4 linked regions of the Homo sapiens genome follow. The protein of the gene in region 1 purifies or fractionates together with the protein of each later gene. This does not show direct contact. Each region holds a gene or a part of one and is shown in the gene's direction. Other genes may lie near its edges.

Region 1 (7,557 bases):
GTTATTTGGACCTAAGTCTGAGCAGTTGCAAAGGGGCCAGAGAAAATAAATGACTAGGTAAATCAGGTATCTGTGAATAAGAAAATGTGATGGCTATCTTTTTAAGTAACTGAATTACTTAATGATAGTGAACAAAGAAAATCCTATCTGTATCCTTTCCTAACATCAAAGGCTGAAATCAGAGAACTTTAATTGCAAAAAGCATTTAATAAGTCTGAATCCATAGGCTGGCTCTATAGTTGATTGTTAGACGAAAATGTCAACACATGGTATTTAATAGGCACCTAGTAGTAGATTAAAACACAAAAGGCATAGCAGATGAATTCTAATTAGTGGAGAGAGGTTAATTTTTAAAAGCTTACAGAAATTGCTATGGTAAGAAATATTAAATTAATCCTAATGGCCTTTATTGAACCACTAATAACTCATACCTCGCAACTGACTGGATGCCTTATGTGCAGAGTTGATTGTCTAATTACCTAAAACCTGAACTTAGAAACTGTGCATGGGCTAGGCTGGGCGCAGTGGCTCACGCCTGTAATCCCAGCACTTTGGGAGGCCGAGGCAGGCAGATCGAGAGCATCCTGGCTAACACAGTGAAACCCCGTCTCTACTAAAGATACAAAAAATTAGCTGGGCCTGGTGGCAGACGCCTGTAGTCCCAGCTACTCAGGAGACTGAGGCAGGAGAATGGCATGAACCCTGGGGGCAGAGCTTTCAGTGAGCGGACATGGCGCCACTGCACTCCAGCCTGGGCAACAGAGCAAGACTCCGTCTCAAAAAAGAAAAAAAAAAAAAAAAAGAGAAAGAAAGAAATTGTGCATGGGCTGGGTGCAGTGGCTCACGCCTGTTATCCCAGCACTTTGGGAGGGCAGATCACAAGGTCAGCAGTTCGAGACCAGCCTGACCAACATGGTGAAACCCGTCTCTACTAAAAATACAAAAATTAGCTGAGCCTGGTGGCATGCGCCTGTAGTCCCAGTTACTCGGGAGGCTGAGGCAGGAGAAGTGCTTGAACCCGGGAGGGGGAGGTTGCAGTGAGCGAAGATCACGCCACTGTACTCCAACCTAGCGACAGAGTGAGACTCCGTCTCAAAAAAAAAAAAAAAAGAAATTGTGCATTTATCTCACCTTCTGAAATGTTACTCATTGCTTGCTGCCTTTCAGCAGCTGGCCAGACTCCTAAACTGTTCAAAACATCTAAAAACGGAATGTTTTCTCAGTTGCTGGAAGAAACAAAAACTTAGATCATTATTTTTATAACAGGGAATCAATTATAGTAACTTGAAAATATGAGATGTGATTAAAAATATTAAATTGAAATGCTTACAAATGAAATACACCCCTTCTTCCTGAAACTGGAAACTAAGAGTCATTGACATGTGGTTTGACTGAAAGATAAAGCCCAGCTGTATCCTACAGCTACATCAGAGCCCCTGTGGCTAAGGGTACATATAAAAAACTCTAAAACAAATTTCTGAATAAGATGTGACTTTTCCCTGCCACTTGGCTCTATGGTCCTGGCAACTGATGCCTTGGAAGTGATTGATCAGTTTGGATACTCAGCTATAATGAAGCCTCTTGGTTTAGCAGTAGTAAGAAGGCAGAAAAGCATCAAAAAACCTTAATTCTGATTGAGCCTATTTCAGTGGTGGAAAAAAATCTTAATTCTGATTGAGCCTGTTTCAGTGGTGGAAAAAACACATTCTGGATTGTATGCATGCCAGGCAGTAACATATCCAGAGCTTCTGGAATCATTTCATACAATTTCCATTATGGGATAGAAGCTTTGAGATTAGCATTGCATTTCATTTGGTTGTGAATTGTTGAACATTATTGGTATCTGTGCTTTCTGAACATTACTGCTGAGTTTCAATTATCTTTCCCATGAGAATGGGCACATTTTCCGACTTCTAAGATGTCCCTTTTGTTGCATGACCTTGAAAGTTTTTATACCCCATGAGAGCCCAATTTAAATAACCTTTGGTACAATTCACTGAGGCAAAGATTTGGCAGTTGTTAATTTTTTTTTTAAAGATTTATAGGTTTATTTAAGAAAGTACCTCCAAAAGAGGTAGGTGGCTGAAGCCAGTGGTGTTGGGAAAGATGTTAATGGCCTAAATTGAGCCCAGGTGTGGTAAATGCACATTGACTTTTACTGAAAATACACTAGTTGAATAACCTTCCGCCATTAGCCTATCACCATGGAAATAAGGATAATCTGAGCAAGGTGGTGAACTCCACTAACAAACTGAAAAAGGTAATTCCTGGAATTAAAGTTACAAGGTGAAAAAAACCTTGTTCTTGACTTAAAAATCTCATTAACAAACATTAGTTTCAAGAACTTGAACCCGGGAGGTGGAGGTAGCAGTGAGCCGAGATCGCGCCACTGCACTCCAGCCTGGGAGACATAGCAAGACTCCGTCTCTAAAATAAAATAAAATAAAATCACCCTGTAACTTACTACCTCCTCAGAAATTAAGTTTGCGCTGTCCAACAGCAAGAGGAATTCGCTTGATAAGAATAATTAAACACATAAAGGCAATGCCTAACCTCGTAACGCCACCCCATATTCCTTAATCTTTACCAAGCCACTATAAGACGGCAGAAAACACAAGCTGCACTTTCGTTCTTTTCTCGTGTCCCGTTTTCAACAGACCATGGATTTTTTTTTTTTTTTTTAGATGGAGTCTCGCTCTGTGCCAGGCTGGAGTGCAGTGGCACGATCTCAGCTCACTGCAACCTCTGCCTCCCGGGTTTAAGCAATTCTCCTGCCTCAGCCACCAGAGTAGCTGGGACTACAGGCGTGTGCCACCACGCCCAGCTAATTTTTTTTGTATTCTTAGTAGAGAGGGGGTTTCACCTGTTGGCCAGGATGGTCTCCATCTCTTTACCTCGTAATCCGCCCACCTCGGCCTCCCAAAGTGTTGGGATATTATAGGCGTGAGCCACCGCGCCCGACCAGAACATGGAAATTTAAAGAGAAAAAAATAAGTGACTTCTGATTTCAAAAACACAACCACCCACTTTTCTATTCTATTCCTGGTGAGCACATTCTGGAGACTCTGCGGCAACCATAGCCTCGGCCGCGGCGGAAGGCTCCGGGGCGGCCACACCTCAGGGGGCAGCCACACCTCAGGGGGCAGCGCGCACAGGCGGGTCAGGCTCTGATTCCCATCTCTCTCCGGTCTTCACTGGAAGGACCCACACTACATCACAAACTAATGGCTTTACAATTAACTTCTAAGTAGCTAAATTTAGTAATGGGCGCTCTAGTTTTAAAAAATATTATTCAGGCCGGGCGCGGTGGCTCACGCCTGTAATCCCAGCACTTTGGGAGGCCGAGGCTGGTGGATCACCTGAGGTTAGGAGTTCAAGACCAGCCTGGCCAAAAGGGTGAAAACCCGTCTCTGCAAAAATACAAAAAATTAGCCAGGCGTGGTGGCGGACGCCTGTAGTCCCCAGCTACTCGGGAGGCTGAGGCAGGAGAATCGCTTGAACCCGGGAAGCGGAGGTTGCAGTAAGGCGAGGTCGCGCCACTGGACTCCAGCCTGGGCAACAAGAGCGAAAGCGAAACTCTGTCTCAAAAAAAGAATATTATTCAAAAACTGATTTTCACATTTTTAAAAAAGACCCACTGAGGGAGGAAGACCGAATCCCACACATGCGCGCGCACAGCGGTTCCGAGTTCTGCAACCAACCTCCCACGGGCGCCGCGCCTTCTCCGCGTCACGTGACGGCCGTCTCCCGCACCTTCCATACTCTCAATGTAGGGAGAGGACGGGTTCCATCAGCAATTTAATAAAAACCATTGGTGAAGCAAAAAAAAAAAGCCTGCCAACCTCTTATAACGTTTTTTCTTTATTTTTCTCTTTTATGTGGACAGGAAGCCTTAGGTTGGCTATATTTACCCTCAAATCTCTTTTTAAAATGATTTTTAAGTTTCAGCATACTCCCGCGCTTAATGAAATGGTTTCCCCCAGCATCCCCAGCTGGTGCGGTCTGAACCATTCGGAACTTCCCAGAGGGGGGCACCGGAATAGGGGCGGTGGAAAAGGGTAATTGTCGGGCAGCGGCCCCTGCTTCCCAGTCAGACCTCGGAGTTGTAGGACTCGGACTGTGTTCCTGGGCTTGCGAGAGCTAGGGAGGCCCGGCTCTCCTCGCGGTGCAGGACGCGCTCGGACGGCTCCCGCACCCCCACCGCAGTGTTGGGTGGTGGTACGGCTCAGGGAGTCACGCGCCTGGGTGTCGGCGGGGCTGCGGGACCGCGAGTGAGTGTGGTCGCTCCTGGTTCTGCCAGCTCCCCTGAGAGCCTGAACCCGGGCTTGAGAGCCTCGCCACCCCGGGTGACATCCCTGCCGTGGGCTTGGGGGCTCTGGGTGTGATTCCGCCGGTCCGGGTCCCGCAGCGACCACCTACCCAGCGCAGTCAGGGGCGGGGCTGGGACCCAGAGCGGGACCCCGGCTGCCGAGTCCAGGTGTCCCGCGGGCCTCGATTTGGGGAGCAGGTAGGCGGGGGTCTGAGGGGTTGGCGGAGGGGCATGTCCGAGTTTTCGTTGGTCCCAGGTGGACGAGTAATGGGGGAGGGTTTAGGGCCAGAGTCCAGGGCGTCGCCGAGACCCTGAGATTTGAAGATAGGTTGGGGGCACGCCCATTAACCAAGTCTATGGGGATGAGGACTGTGATCTCATTTGATGTTGCCATGAAACGGGACTGTTTGCCTTCCCTTCTCCCAGGTTTTGTCTTCGCTCTGTTTGGAGGAGAGGGTGTGTGTCATCCTCTTCTCCCAGTTTGGCGTTCAGGAGGGTCCTCTGATGCGCTAATAGGGTAGCACCGTGTCCTCCAGGGAGGGTGGAAGACCGCGCTTCTCTCCAGTTGAGAGTACTGTCAGTCGCGTCCTTGTCTCCTGGAAAGAATGGATTGGCTTGTGGATTGAAGTCCAAGGTGTGGTCACTAGCAGTCTCTTCAAGTGGGGACACAGGGCAAGGAGGAGCTTGCTGGAAGTAGGTTCTGGCTCTCTAGCCTTTGGCCACAGCCAGTTTAGTGCCAGATTATCACCGTGGTCATCAAGTAATTGAGTAATAGTGGCAGGTGACACTGCGTTTGCCCTTCTAGTGTCCTATGTCAGGGAGCTCTGTGAATGGAAATCCAGGGAAACGGTGGAAATAGAGCCACAGTGAGAGTGGATCTGAACTGGCAGTCATCCCCTGCAGAACTTTTCACCCTGGGCTTGTTGGGATCCCAGCTGCTAACTTAATGAGGCTCCCCAGTGGGAGACTAGTTATAGAAGCTGTGTGTCCACTGCTGGTTAAGATCCGTTATAGTGCTTTGTTTATTTAGAGTGCCCTTACTTAGTGGCCTCTTTAATTCTCCACGGTGCTATGAGAACACCATAGGAAGTAGGGTTGAAATAGGGCCAGGGCGCACCACGGGTGGTGGTGAGGTCACTGTCCAGGTCTGGGACTCAGCCATTGTGGGAGGGGGACATGAACAGACACTCTACCACATCAGGGAATTTGAATACTGTCTTTGGATATGTTGATGAAGAGACTGTCAGCCAGGGCATTTCGGCTTCCTATGTGGGTTCTGGAAAGCTTGTTGGAAACAGACTCGTGAGACACACTCAAACCAGTTTGTTTTCTTCAGCAAACACCTGGTAGAGATTGGAATTGAACAGTGAGTGAAGAATGACCTCACGCTGCCCAGAATTCTGATTCCATGTGTAATGCGAATTCTGAGAGGCCTCTGTTTCTCAGCTTTTGGGTGGTATTCAGAGAGGTCTAGTAACACTTGGTGTCACCTGGCTGGTGAGGGCAGGCTCCGGTGACCGCAAAGCTAAGTGCTCTGTAGGGCACCTCCCTCTCTTTCAGGGGCTGCCTGGGCCTCTGGTGCACATGATCCATGGAGTCAGAGTCAGAGCTCTCGTCTGACAAGTGCTTTTGCTTTCTTTCTTTCTTTCTTTCTTTTTTGGAGACAGAATCTCATTCTGTCGCCCAGGCTGGAGTGCAGTGATGCGATCTCGGCTCACTGCCACCTCCGCTTCCAGGCTCAAACGATTCTCCTGCCTCAGCCTCCTGAGTAGCTGGCACTACAGGCACGTGCCACCAGGCCTGGCTAATTTTCGTATTTTGTATTTTTTGAAATGGAGTTTTACTCTTATTGCCCAGGCTGGAGTGCAATGGTGCGATCTCAGCTCACTGCAACCTCCGTCTCCCAGGTTCAAGCAATTCTCCTGCCTCAGATTCCCCAGTAGCTGGGATTACAGGCATGCACCACCACCATGCCTGGCTTTTTTTTTTTTTTTTTTTTTGAAATGGAGTCTTGCTCTGTGGCCCAGGCTGGAGTGCAGTGGTGCGATCAGCTCACTGCAAGCTGTGCCTCCTGGGTTCACGCCATTCTCCTCCCTCGGCCTCCCCAGTAGCTGGGGCTACAGGCCCCCGCCACCATGCCCAGCTAATTTTTTGTATTTTTTAGTAGAGACGGGGTTTCACTGTGTTAGCCAGGATGGTCTCAATCTCCTGACCTCGTGATCTGCCCACCTCGGCCTCCCAAAGTGCTGGGATTACAGGCGTGAGCCACCGCACCCAGCCTAATTTTTGTATTTTTAGTAGAGATGGGGTTTCAATATGTTGGCCAGGCTGGTCTCGAACTCCTGACCTCGTGGTCCGCCTGCCTCGGCCTCCCAAAGTGCTGGGATTACAAGCATGAGCCACCACACCCGGCAATTTTTCTATTTTTAGTAGAGACAGGGTTTCACCATGTTAGCCTGGCTGGTCACAAACTCCTGACCTTAGGTGATCTGCCCTCCTTGGCCTCCCAAAGTGCTGGGATTACAGGCTTAAGCCACTGCACCCAGCGAGTGCTTTTCATTAAAAGGAAAAACGAATAAGAGTAGCCCATGTTTTGGCCAGACATGGTGGCTTATGCCTGTAATCCCAGCACTTTGGGAGGCCGAGGAGGCGGGAGAATCACCTGAGGTCAGGAGTTCAAGACCAGCCTGGCTAACATGGCGAAACCCCATCTCTACTAAAAATACAAAAGTTGGCTGGTCCTGGTGGCGCACGGCCATAATTCCAGCTACTCGGGAAGCTGAGGCAGGAGAATTGCTTGAACCTGGGAGGCGGAGGTGGCAGTGATCCGAGATTGCTGCACTGCACTCCAGCCTGGGCAACAGAATGAGACCCTTCCGCAAAAAAAAAAACAAACCAAAAAAAAACAAAACAGTGTAGCCCATGTTGGCTCTGGGTGCTGGGAAGTGGCTTGTCAGCGTTGCCTCTGGTTTCCCTCTCCTGCTTGAGAAGGAAACTGCCAGGCCTATGGCCTGAAAAGTAAGTTGGTGTGATGTAGATGCTGCCAGAGCACCCCCTTATAACCAAGAGTAAGAAAGATGGGGACTTGGCTGGATGCAGTGGCTCATGCCTGTAATCCTAGCACTTAGGGAGGCTGAGGTAGGTGGATCACCTGAGGTCGGGAGTTCGAGACCAGCCTGGCCAACATGGTGAAACTCTGTCTCTACTAAAATACAAAAATTAGCCAGGTGTGGTGGCAGACACCTGTA
Region 2 (7,307 bases), on another chromosome or scaffold:
CTGGGGCTAAGCCTCTCGGTGGAAAGGGGCGGCAGTTCCGAGTGTATAACAAAGCCTCCCTCACTCTGTTTAGACTTCGGTGAAGGGTTTGTTTGTCCCAGCTCTGAAGGTGACGTGGGACCTGCGGTCAGGATCCATCTGGCTCTGAGGAAGTGCAGTGGGCACTTGGGCCTCCTGTAGTCTCTGCCACTCACAGTCACTTCTGACCCCGTGTCCAGGACAGGAGGAAGCAGGGGATGTTTGGCTTTCCTGTGTTTCAGGACAGGATTTGAGGAGAGGGAGACCATTTTGAAAAGTTCCTTTCCCACCAGAGGCCAAGGAAAGAGAAAACCTGCCCATTACTTGGCCTTAGGGAGTGGAAGAAGTACAGCCTTCAGCTGGGAGGGAGAGCTGGAGGGCTCACTATGTGCAGAGCCTCTGAGCCACCTTCACCTCACTAGTGGGGAAACTGAGGCTCAGAGAAGGGAGGGAGCCAAGCGGATACAGCCAGGGAGAGTATAGGCCTTCAACAGGAGCCCGCTTCCGGCTTGGCACTCACCTGCAGTGAGCGCTCCCTGACAGCTTGGGTTTCCTGGCTGAGTCCTAGAAAGAGGGATGCAGGAGAACGAGGGCCTCAGTCCAAATGGGGACACTGGGCACGTGGAGCGCAGGATGTTGTACCAAGCTAGCCAGGAGCCCCAAAGGAGCCCGGGATCTTTCCAGGACCTGCTGGTCCCAGTCGTTGTGTGCAGGTGAGGGCCCGGCACAGGGGAGGAGCAGGGGCTTGGGGAGGGCCTGGGATCCCTGCTGGCAGTTCCCAGATGGGGGGGGGGGGCTCCCGCCTGGAAGTGGAAGTGGACCTGACTATTAGGTGTGTGTGCCATATGGCTACTATTATGTGTGCCGGAGCTGGGCTTTGTCAGCTGGGTGACTTACTCAGGTTTCTCCATCGTTTTCCCACTAGGGCTTTTTTTTTTTTTTTTTTTTTTTTTAAACAGTTACTTCGAGCATTCCAGCCGGCCTGGCCTGGCCAGCAGAGCGTTCTCACTGTCACCCTTACCCCACTCACTTTCATTCAGTTCACAGATTGCCTGCCCTGGGCTGTGGGCTTGGTGACATCCTAAAGGGACTAAGGTAAAGAGATGTGGGGGTTTCTTGTTTGGGTCAAGCCTCAGCTAGACAGAGAAGGGGCCACAGCTGTGACTGCAGTTGGGTGGCAGCTCAGAGGGAGAGTAAGACGGTGCATGTGGCCGGGTACAGTGGCTCACGCCTGTAATCCCAACATTTTGGGAGACCAAGGCGGGCGGATCACGAGGTCAGGAGATCGAGACCATCCTGGTTAACATGGTGAAACCCCCGTCTCTACTAAAAATACGAAAAATTAGCCGGGCGTGGTGGCGGGCACCTGTAGTCCCAGCTACTCGGGAGGCTGAGGCAGGAGAATGGTGTGAATCTGGGAGGCAGAGCTTGCAGTGAGCTGAGATCGCACCACTGCACTCCAGCCTGGGCAACAGAGCAAGACTCCGTCTCAAAAAAAAACAAAAACAAAACAAAACAAAACGGCATACGCCCTGGCATCCCACAGCCCTCAGCCCTTAGGCACACCTGGGGTTTTAGTGTTTGTGTCTGTTTCTGTTCGTCCTGTGACTTGATCCTGGAGGACTGGCATGATGGTCCCCATGTTTGTGCCAGGGTGCTCTCTTGAGCTTTCCTTACTGTTCCTGGGTGGGCACTCCCTGGCCGGGCCCTGCATTCCGCCGTGGGCCCTGCTGCACCACACACTGCTGAGGTTCCCTTCAAAGATGAGGACTGGGGGGGTCTGGGATGGGTGCCGGGGACATGCATCTGGAGCCAGCCCAGGCCCCTCTGGCAATTCGTTGGTTTAGGGACTGAGTGTCTCATGGGGGCCTGGTTGCTTATGCAGGACTTTGCTCGCAAGAGTTCTAGCAATTCTGAAAAAGAGCATAACCATGTGGGTGCTAGTAGCCAGGGAAAGCTTCATTTGTTCCAGATACATTCATTTAGCTCCTACTGTGCGGCCCAGTTGCATCTAGCACAGTGAAAAGCAGACAATCAAAGGAGAGACAGGGAGCGAAGGGGCCAGAAGGTCTGGGCTTGGTGCACCTGGAGAGAACGACTCAGCCTGTAGGAGGTGCCAGAGAGGCACTGGGAGTCCAGAAGGAGACCTAGATTTTCAGAAGACCAGGGCAGGGCAAAGGTCAGAGACTTGGGAAACCTCATCACGACTTCTTTCTTCCGGGTCAGAAGCCAGAACAGGAAGACCTGTCCAGCCTGATCTCAGGCTGCATGGCCTCGTGGGAACCCCTGGTACCCTGCTCCATCCAGGGTCTCAGCTCTGGCTCTCCCCAGCAGTGGTACCCCACAGATGAAGCAGTCCTTGTCCCTATGATGCCACCTGGCAATCTTCCTGTATCATTTATTTCTTTCCTCAAACGTGTGCCAGGCCTGGGGGTCCGGAGGATTCCCACATAGAGGAAACAGGATGATGAAGATAACGGAGGCAGGAGAACATAGTGTGGCTCTCGGAACGGCAAGTTGGACTCTGCAGCTCGGGTGTTGAGTTGTAGGAGATGGGTGGGTGAGGTGGGCAGGACCCTGGTGAAGGAGTATTTCATGCTTTCTCCAGTATTTATTTCCACCCTGCCGTGTTCCTAGAAACCGCAGGAGTTGGTGCGTCATTCTGCGAAAGATGGGCGTCACAAGCGTTTAAGCCTTTGAGAAGGCTTGAGCCACGCCAGCATCCACACCGCTCGTTTGTGCTTGTGAGCCCCCTACCAGCTGTCAGTGCGTCCCTGGCCCAGAAGTGGAGGGAACGAGGTACGCTTCTTGGAAAGCAGGTGTAGCCTGGGAGAGCCAAGGCTGGGGGGAGACAGACACCCCCGTAAGAACTCCCATGTCCGTGTGTGGCATTGCCTAAACATCCACCTGTTGTGTTAGTTTCTTTTTAATATGCAGGTAACTGGAAATTAGTTTAATCTGATGCTTTCCTCCTGACCCCTAGCTGACTTAAACCATTGCAGGCCAAGTGGTAAGGGAGCTTATTTTGGAGCGCAGAGTTGAGGTAGGGAAGGGGGGTGAGCCCAGCCACGTGCTTTGAGGGCGCAGAGATTGGGTGGTGCATGTTCCACCCGTGAATGTTCTTCCCTCTGCCAGGCTCACTGCTGGGGGTTGGAATGAGGCTTTGCAACACTTTGCATCTCATAGTTTATTTTCCCAGAGGAGGGTCTTTTTTGGATTTGCAAGTATTTCCATTTCACAAGTGAGACAGCCTAGGACCTAGATTAAGTAACTTTCCTGAAGCCACGCAGTGAGGGGAGGAAGCAGGGATTTTCTCTGGTTCTCCAACTCCAGGTCTCTGTGGTTTGCCTTGCATGTATGGGCTGAATAAGTGTTGTTGGCCACACCACATCAGCCCTTAAAAGCTGCTTCTACAGGAAACTTTATGGGAGTCAAATGGACCAGAGTTTAACTCTTGGAAGCCTTTAGAATATAATTTTAGGGTGAATTAGGCCTCCTGCTCCCTACTATAATTTTCTTCTGCTCCCCACTATAATTTTCTTCTGGACGTCTTCAATCCCCAACTGAATTGAATGGTGGCTCTCTGAGGCGTCTGTCTCCCATGGGTAGCACGGATGTAGCGTACAATAGACAGATGCTTGCTCAAGAAACATATATATGTATGTATGTATTATATGTATGTATATGTGTGTGTATATATATTTTTGGAGACAGGGTCTCCCTCTGTTGTCCAGGCTGCAGTGCAGTGGTGCAGTCCTAGCTCACTGTAGCCTCAAAATCTTGGGCTCAAGCGATCTTCCACCTCAGTCTCCCAGGTAGCAGAGACTGCAAATATGCACCAGCACACCCAGCTAATTTTTTCATTCTTTGTAGAGATGGGGTCTTGCTATGTTGTTTGGCCTGGTCTTGAACTCCTGGACTCAAGCAATTTTTCCACCTCGGCCTCCCAAGGTGCTGGGATTACAGGCATGAGCCACCACGTCCGTGCCCAAATATGTATTTAATTTAAATTTCATTTTAATGTGTTTAAGGGATGAAAGTAAATACATGCTTGTTACAAGCCATTCAAATGTAGAAGTAGGAAGGTGGCTGCCCGGCCTCCCCTCTCCTGGGAGGATCTGTGGTGAGCAGTCGGATGTGCATCCTTCTGGTCTTTTTTCTATTAACGACTCTTTGCTGGATTTGCTGTTACTAGGCTTTCGCAGCAAACGTGGGATTGTTGTGGAAAATGCTTTGCTGGGAGAAGGGGAGCCGGAGATTCACAAAAGGAGGCTCCCGTGTTCATTTGCGTATTTGGCAGCTCCTAGGCTGGGAGTCAGGATACCTGGGTTCCCGTCCCTGCTCTGCCACTAACTGGCTGTGAGAGCTGGGGCAAGTCTGCTCTGGGTGCGTCTTCTGAGAGTCACATTCTGGTTGTCTATGCAGCTAGGGGTGACCCTGGCGTGAGTATCTGGAACAGGCCAGGCTTGGCTCCCTGGCCGGGGGTCTTGTCTGTCAAGTGAGCACCTGAGCTGGGGTCCCTGAGATCTGTTCTGAGGCTGCCTCTGTCATGCAGCACTTTGAGATGCGCCCCCCTTGGAGCCCTCCAGGAGCTGAGAATCAGAAGAGATCCTGTGGGGAGAGGTGAGATTTTCTGTACCTCTGTTTCCTTACCTGAGGTGGGTCATAACAAAGCTCTGCCGCTTGGTAGTGCTGAGGATTGAGACCCCCAACGCGGTGTGCTTAGAACAGTGCCTAGCGTGTCATAAGCACAGGTGAAATATCAGGCATTATTCTGAAAGGCGGCAGGGTATCCTGTGTAAGGGAATGCTGTTTATTACGTGCCGCCTTGTACGCTTGTCTCGTTATTGCTTTTGGACAAATTTTCAGAAGAAAATGGTCAGACTCTGGGGTCGGCACATTTTTAGGACGTTTGCGGCACTCTGGCACCCTGCCCTCCAGAAAGGCCATTTGATTTTCAGGCATAGAGACAGCCTGGAGTTCCCTGCCCCACTTCCCCGGCACCCCTTCTTCATCTGATACGTAAGAAAAAAAAAAAAAAGACTAAATGACTCTCGTTGTTTTACTTTGTTTGACTTTGATTACTAGTTGATCACTAGCTATTTCATTATTGGATTCACTTTGACTATTAGTGAGAGTTGATATTAAAACATTTTTGAGAGGTCATTTGCATTTTGTTCATTCTGTACATATCCTTTATTCATTTTACTTTTGGTTTGTTCCTCTTTTTCTTTTTTCTTTTTGTAAAAATGGGGTCTCACTATGTTGCCCAGGCTGGCTGTAAACTCCTGGCCTCGAGTGATCTTCCCGTCTCACCTCCCAAAGTGCTGGCATTTCAGGTGTGAGCCACCATGCCTGGCCTCCCCTCCCTTCCTCCCTCCCTTCCCTCCTTCCCTCTGTCCCTCCCTTCCTCCCTTCCTCCCTTCCTTCCTTCCTTCCTTCCTCAGAATATTGGTCTGTCACCCAGACTGGAGTGTAGTGACGCGATCGTAGCTCACTGCAACTTCAAATTCCTAAGCTCAAGCAATCCTCCCACCTCAGCCTCTTGAGTAGCTGGGACTCAGGCATGTGTCACCACATCTGGCTAATAATTTTTAAAATTGTCTTGTAGAGTCAGGGTCTGTGTTGCCCAGGCTGGTCTCAAACTCTTGGCCTCAAGTGATGCTCCTGCCTCCACCTCCCAATGTTACTTTTTCTTATTGAGCTGAAGACCGTTTTAATCTCTTTTAATGTAGGTTTTTCTACAACGTACATTTCTCTGTTTGCTGCAAGTCAGGCACTGTCTGAGTTCCCATAGTCAGCACTTCGGCCTCAATGTGCCCTGAGCTGAGCAGACAGTGCCATCCTCTGGGCCACCCAGGAGGCTGAGGCTGGCTGTGCCCGCTCCATACCGTAGCCCCAGATGGCTGTACCTTAGGGCTTTGTGCCTGTTCCTTTTCTGCCAGAACCCCTCCTTACCGCCGTAGGGGTGCCTGCCTACAGCAGCTTCCCTTTAGCCTTTTCAGTTTGGTGTTTTGATGGCTTGCAAACCTGAAACCCCAGCGCCTGGAGTGGGATCAAAGCCTGTCACAGGGGCAGAGGGAGGACCGAAAAGTCTAGACCCCTCCAGGGATCTCTGCTCTGCTTCTGCTGGGATCCCCACCCCTTCCTGGGCCTGGGTTTTTCCAGGCACTGGTGGATGGCACTTCTGTGCCTGGAGGAGGTTTTGGTTAAAGATGCTCTAAATGTCTTGTCCAATCACAGTTGTACAAAAAAAAAAAAAAAAAAAAAAAAAAGATACCAGAAAGGCAAGCCCCAGAGCCTTTGTTTGAGAAGAGTTGGGACGTTTTGGAGGCTTTCCATCACTCTGAGGCAGCACCCCCTGCCCCCCTGCCACCCCATTATTACTTCTAGATTGTTCTGGATGGTTCTATATTGGGTGATGTGGAATGAAGCCTGGCCTTCATTTCTTCTCTCAGGGCCTGAATAGAATAGAGGTTAAGCACCTGGGCTCTGGAGCCAGGCTGCCTAGATTTGAGTCCCAGACCTACCACTTGGGAGCTGTGTGACCTCGGGTGAGTTCCTTAACCCCTCTGTGTCTTAGCTTCGCCATTGGTAAAACATGGGCATCCGTTTCATGGTGTGGGCGTGAGAAGCAAATCAGTTAACGTCTGCAGAGCTTTTAGAGCAGCAGCTGCCCTGAGGATGTGCGTGCTGGGTGGCGACTGTCTCATTACTTGTCTCAGAGGCTCAGCTGTCATCACCGCCTGCGTGGGGATGCGTGAGGTGAGGGCTGCATGAGATCACAGGAATGACCATTTCCGGACCCGAGCCTGAGAGCCCAGGTGGCAGAGTGTGGGGTACGTTGGTTTAGCTCATCCAGGCCCAGGGGAAGGGACCTGAGGGGGCAGGGCTGTCACAGGGCCTGCACGTTCCCGTGAACACCCAGGGTCATCTTTGATGTTTTGCCTGTTGTTTTTTTCTCTGATTCAGCACTGTGCAGTAGACATGGGCGAGTCACACGTGTGAACTTAAATTTTCTTTTCTTTTTTTTTTTTTGAGGTGGAGTCTCGCTCTGTCGCCCAGGCTGGAGTGCAGTGGCGCGATCTCGGCTCACTGCAACCTCTGCCTCCCAGGTTCACGCCATTCTCCTGCCACAGCCTCCCGAGTAGCTGGGACTACAGGTGCCCACCACCACGCCCGGCTTATTTTTTGTATTTTTAGTAGAGACGAGGTTTCACCGCGTTAGCCAAGGTAGTCTCGATCTCCTGACCTCGTGATCCACCCGCCTCAGCCTCCTAAAGTGCTGG
Region 3 (6,836 bases), on another chromosome or scaffold:
TTAAGATAATGTGGCACATATACACCATGAATACTATGCAGCCATAAAAAATGATGAGTTCATGTCCTTTGTAGGGACATGGATGAAATTGGAAATCATCATTCTCAGTAAACTATCACAAGAACAAAAAACCAAATACCGCATATTCTCACTCATAGGTGGGAATTGAACAATGAGAACACATGAACACAGGAAGGGGAACATCACACTCTGGAGACTGTTGTGGGGTGGGGGCAGGGGGGAGGGATAGCATTGGGAGATATACCTAATGCTAGATGACGAGTTAGTGGGTGCAGTGCACCAGCATAGCATATGTATACATATGTAACTAACCTGCACATTGTGCACATGTACCCTAAAACTTAAAGTATAATAATAATAATAATAATAATAAAGAAAAAAAAGAAGAATAGATAAGTAGATGGAGGAACAAATGCAAAAAAGTATACTTTAAAAGAAATGCATTGGCTAATTCATACATAATGTTATCGTGTGAATTATTATGTTGTTTTCAAACTAATTCTGCACTGTGTAAAAAGTTATATATTAGGTTGACGCAAGAGTAGCGGTTTTCGCCATTGAAAGGGAGAGATAGCACCATACAGCCACCTTAGTCTACCTTTTACAATGATCCCAAAAACTCATGGAAACATTTTCAAATGCATAAATTGAAGTTTGCTGCTATTATTAATAGGGACATTTACAAATTCATAAACAATTTAAAAATTGTTTTTAAATTGTTAAAAGAAGGATTGGTGTGTTTCGAAATATTAAAAATTAGTGACTAAAATGACACAATATGTACATGAGAATATACATACCTATAGATTATTAGTCATTTCAGCACCCAGAACTCTGCATAACGTATGGAATATATATTTGCATATTTTACAATCATTGTCAATGGAAAGGTGAATTGAAGGTAAACTGCCCCAAATATTTCACAGGCTTCCTAATAGAAAGAATAATAGATTATATCCATAACATGTTTCAATTTTCAAAGAAAATGGATAACCTATAATGAAATCTTTCCATCATAGACTTTAATCAGTCACCACCATGAGCAAATACTAGTAGCTAAGTAAGCAGCCCTTAAAAGACCTGGAGAGAAACAGAGGACATTTGCATAAAGAAAACCTGGAAAACCTGTCCAAGAACAGGAGAACGTAGAGACATTGATACTGTGAACATAGATGAAAACTGGATTTAGTCAAGAAGACATTTCAGCCTCTATGTGGGATGATACGTGGTAACAGGATTTTAATTTTGAAAGACAAGGTCCTCAGAGCTTGATGCTGTTACATGAAGACAGATCTTGGGGAAGTGGTGACAAAATGCCCTTGTGGTTTAGCTCAGTGCAGAGCACACTGCAAATCTTCTTTACAGAAAGGTGCCAAAACAGAAGAGTATATTTTCCTTTTGGGTCTTTCAAATCTAGTATTTGTAAATCATGGTGAATAGTAATTTGAATACTCAGAATCTATTTATCACTACATTCAAACAGTCCATTAAGCTCCACCTCTAGTAGAGGAATGTGTCTACATACATTATTTGGAATTCCTCTGTAGAGAAGTTTTGTCCTTTCCCCCACCCCCACTTATTTATTTATAAGTCACTGCTTCTCTGCCCTCTTACGAACAGAGCTTGAAAATATTTGCGTTTATCAAAATCCTGTTTGAGTAGGCAGAATAACGGCCCACCAAAGATGTCCATGTCCTATTCCCCAGAACTTGTAAATACTGATGCTACATGACAAAAGAGACTTTGCAGATATAATTATATCACAGTATTTAATTAGGGAGTTTATCCTGTATTATCTAGTTTGGCCCAACTTAATCAAATGAGTCCTTAACAGCAGAGAATTTTCTCTGGATGAAAGTGGAAAACAGATGGAGTAGAAATGAAAATCAGAGAGATTCCAATTGTAAGAAGAATTCAATGCATCATTGCTGGCTCTCAGATACAGGAACCTACAAACCTGAGAGGGCCTTTAGGGGTTTATTAACAGCCAGCCAAAAGCAGGTAGCTCAGTCCTATAATTGCAAGGAACTGAATCCTGCCAAAAGCCTAAATGAGCTTAGAGGTAAATTCTTCCTAGAGCCTTGTAATGAAAACCCAGCCATCAAAACTTTATGAAATCCAGAGCAAGAAACCAGCAGAGCCAACCTGAATCTCTGACCTACAGAATTGTTTTTGAACACAAAATTGTGTTATTTCAAGTAGCTAAATTTGTGACAACTTGCTTCAGTAGCAAGAGAAAATTAACACATATTTATACACATATATCTGTAATTATTTTCCATATCAACCTATGTGTATATTGAACTTAATATGAGTTCATACCGATATCTCAGACTCTTAATCCAGCACCACAGAGTTCATTCTGCCCTTGCTTATTTGTAATTTATTTTCCTGACGGTGAGAAACTTTTAATTATCTTCCATTATTTGTTTATCTCTAATAACACAAATAGTTTAAGAATTATTCACCTATAAGCTTGTGATATTCAAACTTACCAACTAGAGTATTATATTTATGGACAGCTGTTTTTGTCTTTAGTTTTACAAACTGAAAACCTCTTTTGCAAAGTTACTTAAGTCATTTCCTTTTTTTGTCCACATCACCTGTAGTAAAATTTCCACATCACATGTAGTAAAATTTCCTATATATTACGATACAGTTAGGCTTATCTGTCAGAGGCTACATTATATAATACGATTCCCTAACACTCTGGATCATATTTTTTATTTGCATTCATTAAAGTTTACTCTCTACAACGTACGATTCTATGAATTTTGACAAGTGCATAGAATGTTGTATCCACCACTCCAGTACCTCATAGAAAAGTTTACCACACTAAAAATCCTCCTGTGTATCCCCATTATAGTTGACCACGCTCTCTTAACCTGTAGCAACCACTGATATGTTTTCCATCCCTATAGTTTTGCCTTTTATCAAATGTCATACAAATGGAATTATACAATAACTACAAAATTTTTTTGCCTGGCGTCTTTCAGTTAGTAAGGCACATTTAAGTTTTATCCAGGGCTTTTGTGTAAGTAAATAGCTTGTTTCTTTTCTTTTTTTAAAAAATAATATTCCATTGCATGGATATATCACAGTTTATTTATTTATTACTTGAAGAATATACAATTTTGGTAATTATTAATAAAACTGCTCTAAACGTTTGTTTACAGAAGTTTGAGAGAATACAGGTTTTTGATGTCCTTGGATGAATATCTAGAAATAGGATTGATGACTTGTATGGTAAGTCTATGCATATTTCTAAGAAATTGCCAAGCTGTTTCCCAAAATGTCTGTAGCATATTTCATTCCTGGGAGCAACAAATGAGAGTTTCTGTTACTATATATTTTAACACCATTTAAGTTTGCTTTTAAATGCTGTTGACTCGATGTTCAACATTGAGGAACCGATAAACTGTTTTTTAAAGTGGCTGCACCATTAGACATTCCTATCAGCAATAAATGAGGATTCCAATTTGTCCACTTCTTTCTCAACACTTGTTTTTATTTTTTATTTTAGCCATCTTAATAGGAGATGCCTCAAATATATTTCTGTCAAAGCCTTCATTTTACATATTTAGTTCACTCAACTTATGGAGTAGAATGAAAAAAACTGTAAAGCCAATTTTCATTACTAAACCAACTAGCCACATACATTTGCTTTCTCCAAAAATAGAATATCTTACTCACTTTCAATTCTAATATATGTTTTCATCTTCATGAAAACCATGCATTTATTTTTCAGCTCAATTTCTAAGTTGTACAGGTAGGAAAGCAAACAGAGAGGAGACAAAAAATAAGGAGCCTCATCATAACATTGTAGTCTGAAAGAAATGTCACCATTACTTTCAGCACTTGTTACTGATACTCTCTTTGCTATGATCTTATGGGATTCTCCTGCAGAAGTGACCAAACATTCTTTCATGGTAGTCTGAAAATGGAAGAAGCAAAGTAATGAAAATATGACAGCATTCCCACCACGTCCCAGAATAGATCTAAAGATGAAGACTAACAACAAGCCACATCCTCAAAGAAATATTTATCAAGACAAGGAAAAAACAGAACTATACTATCCTGACTTGAATAAGCAAGGTTTCATATGAAAATCATTATTTCAAATATTCCTTTTATTTGGCACTGCAGAGGTTTTTACATATCAAAATGGTTAAGATTTGACATGAATGAGGTGTATGTAGGTTTGCGGGGGTGGGGGTGGAGTTCTTTTTGTTTTGTTTTTAATAATAAAAGCAACTGTTAACCGAGCTGTGGGGTGGGGGCAAAAAGAGCCAGAAGGCGGCGCACACCTCAGGACTATTCTTGTTTTTTTAGAACCATTCTTATTCTGGGGTTTCTTCACCTACCCAAGTCTCGCCTGAAGCCAGGTACAGCTCTATTCCACTACATGACCCTCTGCCCAGGAAGTTGGAATCTTCACCTAGCAACACAGTTCAGATCGAGATTGACAGGACCATGAGCCAATCACAAAGCTAGATTTGCTTTCCAGTCTAACAGTGGCCGTTGTGCTGGAGACAGTGAGGAGAAGAAAGGGGCGGGACAAGGGCAAAGGCGTTAGAAGTCACCACCGACCCAGCCCCTCAACAGCAAGTTGGTTCTTCAGCATTAAGATCCAGGTGTCAGCCTATGTCTTTATATTGTCAAGATGTCTCTTTCTAAGAAGTTGACTTTAGACAAACTGGATGTTAGAGGGAAGCGAGTCATCATGAGAGTAGACTTCAATGTTCCCATGAAGAAGAACCAGATTACAAACAACCAGAGGATCAAGGCTTCCATCCCAAGCATCAAGTACTGCCTGGACAATGGAGCCAAGGCAGTAGTTCTTATGAGTCATCTAGGTCGGCCTGATGGTGTTCCCATGCCTGACAAATATTCCTTAGCACCTGTTGCTGTTGAGCTCAAATCCTTGCTGGGCAAGGATGTTCTGTTCCTGAAGGACTGTGTAGGCGCAGAAGTGGAGAAAGCCTGTGCCAACCCAGCTCCTGGTTCAGTCATCCTGCTGGAGAACCTGCGCTTTCATGTGGAGGAAGAAGGGAAGGGCCAAGATCCCTCTGGAAAGAAGATTAAAGCTGAGCCAGATAAAATAGAAGCCTTCCGAGCATCACTTTCCAAGCTAGGGGACGTCTATGTCAATGATGCTTTTGGCACTGCACACCGCGCTCATAGTTCCATGGTGGGAGTGAATCTGCCCCATAAAGCATCCGGATTCTTGATGAAGAAGGAACTAGATTACTTTGCTAAAGCCTTGGAAAACCCAGTGAGACCCTTTCTGGCTATACTTGGTGGAGCCAAAGTGGCAGACAAGATCCAACTTATCAAAAATATGCTGGACAAAGTCAATGAGATGATTATTGGTGGTGGAATGGCTTATACCTTCCTTAAGGTACTCAACAACATGGAGATTGGTGCTTCCCTGTTTGATGAAGAGGGAGCCAAGATCGTTAAAGATATCATGGCCAAAGCACAAAAGAATGGTGTAAGGATTACTTTTCCTGTTGATTTTGTTACTGGGGACAAGTTTGACGAGAACGCTCAGGTTGGAAAAGCCACTGTAGCATCTGGCATATCTCCTGGCTGGATGGGTTTGGACTGTGGTCCTGAGAGCAACAAGAATCATGCTCAAGTTGTGGCTCAAGCAAGGCTAATTGTTTGGAATGGGCCGTTAGGAGTATTTGAATGGGATGCCTTTGCTAAGGGAACCAAAGCCCTCATGGATGAAATTGTGAAAGCCACTTCCAAGGGCTGCATCACTGTTATAGGGGGTGGAGACACTGCTACTTGCTGTGCCAAATGGAACACTGAAGATAAAGTCAGCCATGTCAGCACTGGAGGCGGTGCCAGTCTAGAGCTTCTGGAAGGTAAAATCCTTCCTGGAGTAGAGGCCCTCAGCAACATGTAGTTAATATAGTGTTACTTCCTTCTGTTTTCTGTCCATGGCCCTTAAGTCAGCTTAATGCTTTTACATCTCGATGTGACTTTTGTTAAAATCTACTCCTAGATCAAGACCTATGTAATGGACAAGCAGCAGGCCATCAGGAACTCTTAATATCAGCACAGCAATTCATTTTAGTTTGGTCACGCATTTGCCTGTTCAAGTTCTCATTTGAACTTCACCATTGTGCTATCTAGGGAGGACATATTCTTAAGTTGCCTATTAAAGAAAGTGAGCTGAAGAAACTGAATCTTTTTATTTTAGTCCAACTTTGCTATTGTTTCATAATTTGAAACCCAAAAGATAAAACTTAATTTGTTGGGAAAGGGTGGAATGAAAGTTGACAAACAAACAATAAATATGCCCAAATAAACTGAGAAAAATAATTACATATAAAGAACTCATGGGTACCATTAAAGTTCTGCTAAGGGGAAATGTTATACTAAATAGGACCAAAAAAAAGAGAAATGAAAGACACTTATTAAACCCAAGGAATTTTTAAAAAGAAAAGAAATTAAACTCAAGGTAAGAATTATGTTTGTGTGCATATCAATGCACAAGATTACACACAAATGCCAGCTAGAAAAAGAGCTACAAGTTAAACCCAAGTTGTAAATAAGTAATTGTTTTATTTTTAAGGCAGGCATTATTTAATAAATAGATAATATAACTGGTAAGTTCTAAAACTTGGTTTTTGAGATAAATAAAATATATATACATAGCTGGTTTAATAATGGGAAAATAGAGATAAAAATTCTCTATTAGAAAACAGAAGATAAAATGATAAGAAATGTAGAAAAAACAAAAACACTTATTGGAAAATATTTTGCTTTATTCTGTAGACAGAGGTAGTTTAGGGCAATGC
Region 4 (7,396 bases), on another chromosome or scaffold:
AATCCTTCATATTCAGCGTTTATTTGCATTGAAATGCCTCCACTCATTATGCATTGATGTTCACTCAACTGTGAACCCTGCTTGTTGCATAGCTCTAGGCATTGGTTTTGCAGGGCCTGATCACTCTGGATTCCCAGGGAAAACCCACCCGATTCTTGTTGCGGTGATGCAAACATGTAGTATTCTCTTTTTCTGTTCAACCTCTGGAGAAAGGGGAAAGGACTGCTAATGTCCACTTCTTTGGCAGGGGGCATGTCGGGGGAGTCTCTTTCTGGCTTCCTGCAGACCCTACTATTAATGAAGCCATACTGGGTTCACTATGCAGCTAATAGTTTACTAAGCAGTAGCACCTTGAATTCTATGCTGGAGTTGTCTGGCTCTCTTAATACCAAAATAAAACTAGAAGACAGGAGGTGAAGAGCCTAGGGAGGGAGGAAAAAAGTTTATTTGAACAACAGCCTGAGCATAGAGGTGTCTGGATTGATTTTTTTCTCCTGGATAGACTGTGTGCATGCCGAAAGAAAAACATCAGGAGCTGTGACAGATCAGGTTATGCAACCATTTTGTGTGCTGAGATAAGACAGTTTACAAGAACTTCACAAGTTTACAAGAACCCACCTCAGCATCCAAAATATGCAACTGGAGCCTCATTAGTAAATGGCAGAATAACATGGAAACTTCTCCTTTTCATGGTTAGACTGTGAAAGTCTGTCTTTAGTTCATATGGTGGTGGTGGTATAAGGTCTCTCTTTTATTTGTGGAGACACCAGGGAGGAAGTGTGGGAGAAACTTGGGGGTAGATGGCCTTCAGTTGCTCAGTGATGAATAGCACAATTTAAAGCCTAGTGGAAATTCTTAGCAGCCTGAGTGCAAACTTGCCCAGGAATAGCCTTTTAGGACTTTACAACACTTTGCTCTGACTGTGTAACTCTGGGACAGTGTGGCCTAAAGGAAGTTTCACATTTCTGAGCTGGTTTTTTGTTGCAGTCTAAATATCTGTACCCACTTTTGAATAGTTGGGTTCAATTGCTGTCAATTTGTATAGTGCCTAAAGGTTTCAGCTTTTTTGTTTTTGTTTTTGTTTTTGTTTTTCCAGGCAGGACTCAGTCTCATTTATATAAAGTCAGAGTAGGGGGATATATGAAACTGGAGACTTTCTCTGACGGGGTTTAGGAAGCCTTGGCTTTATTGCTTCTCGGCCTTTTGGCTAAGATCAAATGTAGGAAGCCTTGGCTTTGCAGTTAGATGTTTGGAATAGAGTAAGGGTTTTTGTTTGTTTCTTGCTATAGCTAATCTGGAAAAAGAAAACTAGGTATCCCCTCTTTTAAGTCAGAAGTTTACATAAATTCATTTTTTCCTAGGAAGTAAGTGTGAAAAATTTAGACTTCAAAGCCCATTTATGTGGATTTCATTTAATTTAGTAAATTTTAAAAATGCACCTAGCCAAGATCAAGACAGCATGGGAGTTATTCTCAAAAAGTCAGCTCAAAAAGACGAGTAAACAGCAAGCATCTATTAAACTAAAGAAATCAGTGAACTTCAGTTTGTTAGGCCTGGGGAGGGACAGAAAATCCAATGATGAAGGAATTTTTTTTCCTAGAGATTCAAGTAGCCAAGCATACATCTGCTGCTCTGAGCTTCTGTGAATGTGTTCGGAGGGAGGTGATCCATACCACAGGCACCAGCAGCAACAAGGCATCCAGCATGTGGAGGGCTTTTCTACTTCTCTCATGCAGAGAAGAAAGAATACAGCCTCAGTGCCATCCTCTGACACAAATGAACTTGTGTAAATGTCCATTTATGTGTATGTACATAATGTGGCTTAATTCATAGGGTGACAACTGATAACCTGATCCATTTTCAGACTTCATTTGTGACAATGGAGAGTCCAGAGAGACAACCTAGTAAGTGTACCCTAGCTTGAGGTCAGAAAAATGGATGTGTATATAGTGAGTGGGACTGTGGAACAGTGGGGTGGTGGGGAGTTCCTGAGAATCCATAGAGGAATGTCACAGGAAGGGAGTGAGATAGTGGCATAAGGAGAAAAAAAAACATCAGTACAGAAGATTTAAGAGTCTAGAGCTGTACTGTCTATTATGGTAGCCACTAGCCACTTGTGGTTATGAAAATCTCAATTATATGAAATTAAGGATTCAGTTATTCAGTCACTGTTGACCATATTTCAAGTGCTCAAATAGCTACATGTGGCTAGCGACTTCTGCATTGGACAGCACAGATATAGAACATTTCCATCGCTGCAAAAAGTTCTGTTGGATAGTGCTTGTCTGGAGCAGGGGTTGGCAAACTTTCTGTAAAGGGTCAGATAGCAAATATTTTAGGCTTTACACAGGCCATGCAGTCCTTGTTTCAACTGTTCAACTCTGCTGTTGTAGTAAAAATGCATCTATAGATGATAATGTAAATGAATGAGCTTGGCTAGAGCCAATAAAACTATTTTTTTGTTTGTATTTTAAGACAGTTTCATTCTTGTTGCCCAGGCTGGAGTGCAGTGGCAAGATTTCGGCTCATTGCAACCTCCGCCTCCCGGGTTCAAGCGATTCTCCTGCCTCAGCCTCTCAAGTAGCTGGGATTACAAGCATGTACCACCACGCCCGGCTACTTTTGTATTTTTACGGGGTTTCTCCATGTTGGTCAGCCTGGTCTCGAATTCCCGACCTCACGTGATCCGCCCGCCTCAGCCTCCCAAAGTGCTGAGATTACAGGCGTGAGCCACCGCACCTGGCCTGAAATTTGAATTTCATATCATTTTCACATCATGAAATAGTATTTTGATTATTTAACTGTTTAAAAATGTAAAAATCATTCTAGCTCATGGGACATGTTAAAACAGGTGGTGAGCCTGATTTGACCTGTGAGATGCAGTTTGCCAACCCTTGGTCTAGAGGAACAGTAAATCAAAACTTAAGGTTTGTTTACTATGTGGGACATCTGATCACTTGAAAATTTTTAGTGGTTCTTCGAGGCTTGAGAACTTTCTCTGGCTGAAACTTGGAGTTCACTGCAGGAATGTTTACCTTCCTTTGTTCCCTATTTTTGCAGTCTAGTTCTCTCCAATGGCAGAGTCATGCTCCTTCAGTGGGAGATGACTACTGGAATGTTTAATCCTTAATTAAATCATGCCTAAGTCTAAAACACTAAACCCTTCTCTGTCTCCACCTGCTAAGTAGCTGAATCCTCACTTGTAACTTTGTCTAGTATACATTGGAAGTTCGCTGTCACCTGGGATCAGTTCTGCCCCTGTACTGTCTAACAACATGACTATTGGTGGACCAAAGAGAGATTATTTTTCCTAGACCAGAAAGGTTTACTTTTATCTTTAGCTATCAACCCCTCCCCCCACCTTTTTATGACCTCACTTTATCTCCAAGTCACATGCTATCTTGAGTGGCACTGTTGAAGGATGCCCCAGGATAAGGGAAAAAAGGTAAGATAAATGCAAAGCAAAATAAAATGGTCAAGGACACAGGAAGGACATAATAGGGGCTAGGATGTGGGAGGCCTTGAGAATTAAGGTAAATTTGTTTGCTATGGAATGAGATGGAAGTCTTAGGAGGTCGTCATGAATAGATGTTTCACAAGTGAAAGCTGGGTGGGAGGGCTCACTTAAACATGGACTGAATGCCTACTGTGCACTAGATAGTATGCTGGGCAATCAGAGATGAATAGCAGATAAGGAAAAATAAAAGCTACAATCCTTAGAATGGTGGGTTGGAGAAGGACAGAATAAGGTTTTTAGATAATAAAAGGCAACAAGATTTAGTGATAGAGGATGGTGAGGGGAAAAGGGATATATAGAGGGATTAGAAATGGGTGCTTTGGGGAGAAAAGCAAGTGGTAATCCTAAAAGAGAAAGCTGGAGAACAAAGGATAAAAAATTAGGAGGTTGGTACTTTGCTGAACTAAGGGGTAAAATGGATGAAACCATCAGGAGCTGTGATTGCTCTTCTGTTCTTTGTGGATGCCCATGTTCAGATCCCCTACGGCCCTTTCCTCTCTGTGGTTGAAGGACAACTACAGAAGAGGTGTCTTCTGTGTTATAAGGTGCAATACTCCCCCCAGAGACCTCTCTATGAGGAAGTCTGATCCAGCGAGAGTTCTACTGCCCACGAGGGGACAGCGTTAGGTTCGAGCTCTCTAATCCAGGTTTCTTTGAGTTTATCTTGGTTCTAACCGGCACGCCGGGTTTTCCAGCATTCCCTGAGCTAAGACTCCCTAATCTGGGCTCCGGGTGAGCGCGCATTCCGAGACCCAGGATTTCGCTCCTTCATCCAGGTTCCGGGTTTCCCCTGCGCTCACCGGCTCCAGACTCCACACAAGCGCGGAATCCGGATCCGAGGGCCTGGCAGTCCAGTGTCCGCGTCTTCCGGGTGACTCTGGTTGTCCCGGATCGCGGCGGCGGCGGCGGTGGCGGCGGCTGAGGGACCCGCGGCCCCGGACACAGCGGCACCGGCCGGGCGGGGCGGAGAGGCGCGGGGAGGGGGCAGAGAGCCAGAGCCGGAGCCGGAGCCGGAGCCGGGGTGGGGTGGGGGGGAGGGGCCGCGGGAACGGATGGCGGCCTGGGCCCCGTAGCAGCGGCGGCTCTACGGCCCGGGGCCCCGGGCGGGCGGAGGTGGCGGCTCCCGGGACCGGCCGCGCGGTGAGTCCGGAGCTTTGTGTGGAGCCGGGACTGGGGGAGGAAAGAGGCGGCGGCACCGATGGGGCGCGGGGCTGAGGGGATCTGATGGGGGCCGGGGGCGGCGGCGCTGCCTGACGGAGGAAGTGGGGGTTGGGGGGGCTGGGGCGGAGCGAGGGGAAGGTGTGTAGGGGGGGTCGTTGCGTGGGTGGGGGAGGGGGCGTCGAGGGGCGCGGGGTGAAGTTCAAAGCGTGGCCACGGCCGGTTCAGGCTGAGGGTAGGGGTGCCCGGGAGGGGATTAGGGTCTGGCTAGGTTATGGGAGCAGGCCAGAGAGTTTCTGAGGCGAGTCTGGGTATGTTGAGGGCGCTCGGGGCGACTGGGGCCAGTCAGGGAGTTGGCGGGGGAGGGGGGGCGGGGGCGGTGGTGGTTGTTCAGAGCATAGGGTCGGAAGCAGGACGTGTGCGTGACCTAGGAGTGGGGAGCAAGGTGGCTGGGATCCTGCAGTAAGTAGGTTGTGGGTGTGTGCCCCTAACAGTCTTCAGGTCACATTTACTCCTGTCCTTTTCTTCAAGATGGAGGGATCCCTGGGCCTGGACCTCAACTGCTATCCTTGTACCCCCGGGAGGGTTTGTGACCCTATCCTGTTTGGAAAACCCATGCTGCCCTCTTTTCCCTTTATGTGTAATTACGGTTGGATCATCTCTGTGCTTTGCTCAGATTCTCCTTCCTCCCTCTGGGGTTGAGGAGGAGGAGACACATCTGACCAATTAATGTGTGTTTGTGAAACAGGCAGCAGCAAACAGTCATTTCAGCTTCGAGGAATTAGGCTCACACAGGGTGGAGAGATCAGAGCCCTTCAGGGGGAATATTTCTGAACAAATCACGGATGATTAAATTCTCTAAGAAACAGCTCCCTACCTAAATGAGAGTGAGAAAGATAGGGAAGAAAGCCTGTCTGTTTCCAGCCATGTGTCCAGAGCCTAAGGGGTTGAGGAGAGTCCCCAAGCCCCTACAGGCCTCCCTTTTCTGTATTAGGCTTTGCTCTGCAGCCTTGAGTTAATTTCACCCCTGCTGCTTTGTCTTGGGGGAGGGAGTGCTGGTTTAGGCTGTTGTGAGGAGATGACTGTTCTGCTGCCACACACAATAGTCGTGTCATTTTATCGGGAGCGCTACCCCAGGGCTGAGAACTGCTGCAGCAGAGATAAACCGGTCCCTCTCACCCGCCTATTGTGTACACAGTGAAGGTCATAGGTTCAAGTCTTGTCTGAGAGCTTTGGATATGCTCCATCTCCCAGGCTCCTCAGTGCCATTTTCTTCCTTTTCCAGACTGGGGCTTGCCATTGGAGGAGGCCAGAGAGAAAGGCTCTTCTTTTTGAGTGAGGAACAATGCAGAGCTCATTGGCACACATTTTTCAGAAGAATAAGGGATGCCAGCCATGTTGTGCCTGCCTCTTTGGCTAGCCTGTACTAAGTTGTGAAGGAATAGTGTCTGGTAGACTCAACTACGATGTTTGTTTCAGACCCTTAAGGAAGAAGACTTCAAGGGAAGGTTCTACTCTTAGTTGAATCATCATATTTAATTCTTTTATATGAATGGAACACTCATGCAGTGATTTTTGTTTGTTTCCGAATACCACTAAAAACCTGTGCAGTGTTAAGATGGGGAGTCAAGCCCAGGTGTGGTGGCTCATGCTTGTAATCTTGGCACTTTGGGAGAATGAAGCCAGAGGATGGCTGGAGCCCAGGAGTTTAAGACCAGCCTGGGCAACAAAGCAAGACCCTGTTTCTTTAAAAATAAAAAATAAAAAAGTCAAGAACCAAGTACCTTTTTAATGGTGGCTTCCTGGTCAATAATAATAGCACAACAAAAAAGCCACAGAATTTGCCTATCTGGGCAAGGGCTGTGGGAACAAACCTTTCAATATTTATTTTAACTCTAATGAAAGGACATGAGTTGCTCATTGTGCAAAAGTCTATATCTGCCTCTGTATTAAGAAATTTGCCAAAGAAATAAACATTTTTGAAAAAATGTATGGGTCTTAGGGATTATTAGTGAGAGAAGGATGAGAACAAACTAGAAGGAATCCTATTGTACATATCTGATAGAAGTGCTCAAATAATATTTATGTACTATTAGTTGTGTAAAAAATTATTTGGGACCAGGCATGGTGCTCACACCTGTAATCCCAGCACTTTGGGAGGCTGAGGCAGGAGGATCACTTGAGCCTAGGAGTTTGAGAGTGGCCTGGGCAACATAGTGAGAACTCATCTCTACAAAAATTTAAAAAAATACAGCTAGCTGGGCATAGTGGCACATGCCAGTGGTCCCAGCTACTCAGGAGGCTGAGGTGGGAAGATCGCTTGAGTTCAGGAGTTCGAGACCAGCTTGGGCAACATGGCAAAACCCCATCTCAACAAAAAATATAAAAAATGTTAGCTGGGTGTAGTGGCATACGCCTGTGGTCCCAGCTTCTTGGGAGGCTGAGGTAGAAAGATCTCGTTGAGCCCAGGAGGTTGAGGCTGCAGTGAGCTGTGATTGCACCGCTGTACTCCAGCCTGGGTGATAGAGCAGGACCTTGTCTTTAAAAAAAAAAAAAAAAAATTTGGGGCCTGGAAAAGAGGTTTCCATTTAGGACATTAAATACAACTTTTCTTTAAAAAGAGATTAGAAGTAAAACTCATTGTGAGTGGGGAATTGTATATAATGTGCTGTGTACACAATAGCCAATCATTTCCCATAGGATAGTGTTGAATAAGAACTT

The links.
Region 2: the proteins of FLCN (region 1) and AGAP3 purify together in Homo sapiens (affinity purification with mass spectrometry; 2 studies listed by BioGRID and IntAct, with this or other methods). This does not show direct contact.
Region 3: the proteins of FLCN (region 1) and PGK2 purify together in Homo sapiens (affinity purification with mass spectrometry; 2 studies listed by BioGRID and IntAct, with this or other methods). This does not show direct contact.
Region 4: the proteins of FLCN (region 1) and ZNF609 purify together in Homo sapiens (affinity purification with mass spectrometry; 2 studies listed by BioGRID and IntAct, with this or other methods). This does not show direct contact.

The regions. Positions count from the first base shown.
Region 1 is NC_000017.11:17,233,862-17,241,418, reverse strand, and holds the start of FLCN (folliculin), read left to right. Parts: upstream 1-4,250; 5' UTR 4,251-4,507; intron 4,508-4,735; exon of another isoform or gene 4,736-4,943; intron 4,944-7,557. UniProt on the Homo sapiens protein: Multi-functional protein, involved in both the cellular response to amino acid availability and in the regulation of glycolysis.
Region 2 is NC_000007.14:151,089,435-151,096,741, forward strand, and holds part of AGAP3 (arf-GAP with GTPase, ANK repeat and PH domain-containing protein 3), read left to right. Parts: exon of another isoform or gene 1-731; intron 732-7,307. UniProt on the Homo sapiens protein: GTPase-activating protein for the ADP ribosylation factor family. GTPase which may be involved in the degradation of expanded polyglutamine proteins through the ubiquitin-proteasome pathway.
Region 3 is NC_000006.12:49,785,036-49,791,871, reverse strand, and holds PGK2 (phosphoglycerate kinase 2), read left to right. Parts: upstream 1-4,586; 5' UTR 4,587-4,684; coding exon 4,685-5,938; 3' UTR 5,939-6,212; downstream 6,213-6,836. UniProt on the Homo sapiens protein: Essential for sperm motility and male fertility. Not required for the completion of spermatogenesis.
Region 4 is NC_000015.10:64,456,182-64,463,577, forward strand, and holds the start of ZNF609 (zinc finger protein 609), read left to right. Parts: upstream 1-4,396; 5' UTR 4,397-4,657; intron 4,658-4,842; exon of another isoform or gene 4,843-4,986; intron 4,987-7,396. UniProt on the Homo sapiens protein: Transcription factor, which activates RAG1, and possibly RAG2, transcription. Through the regulation of RAG1/2 expression, may regulate thymocyte maturation.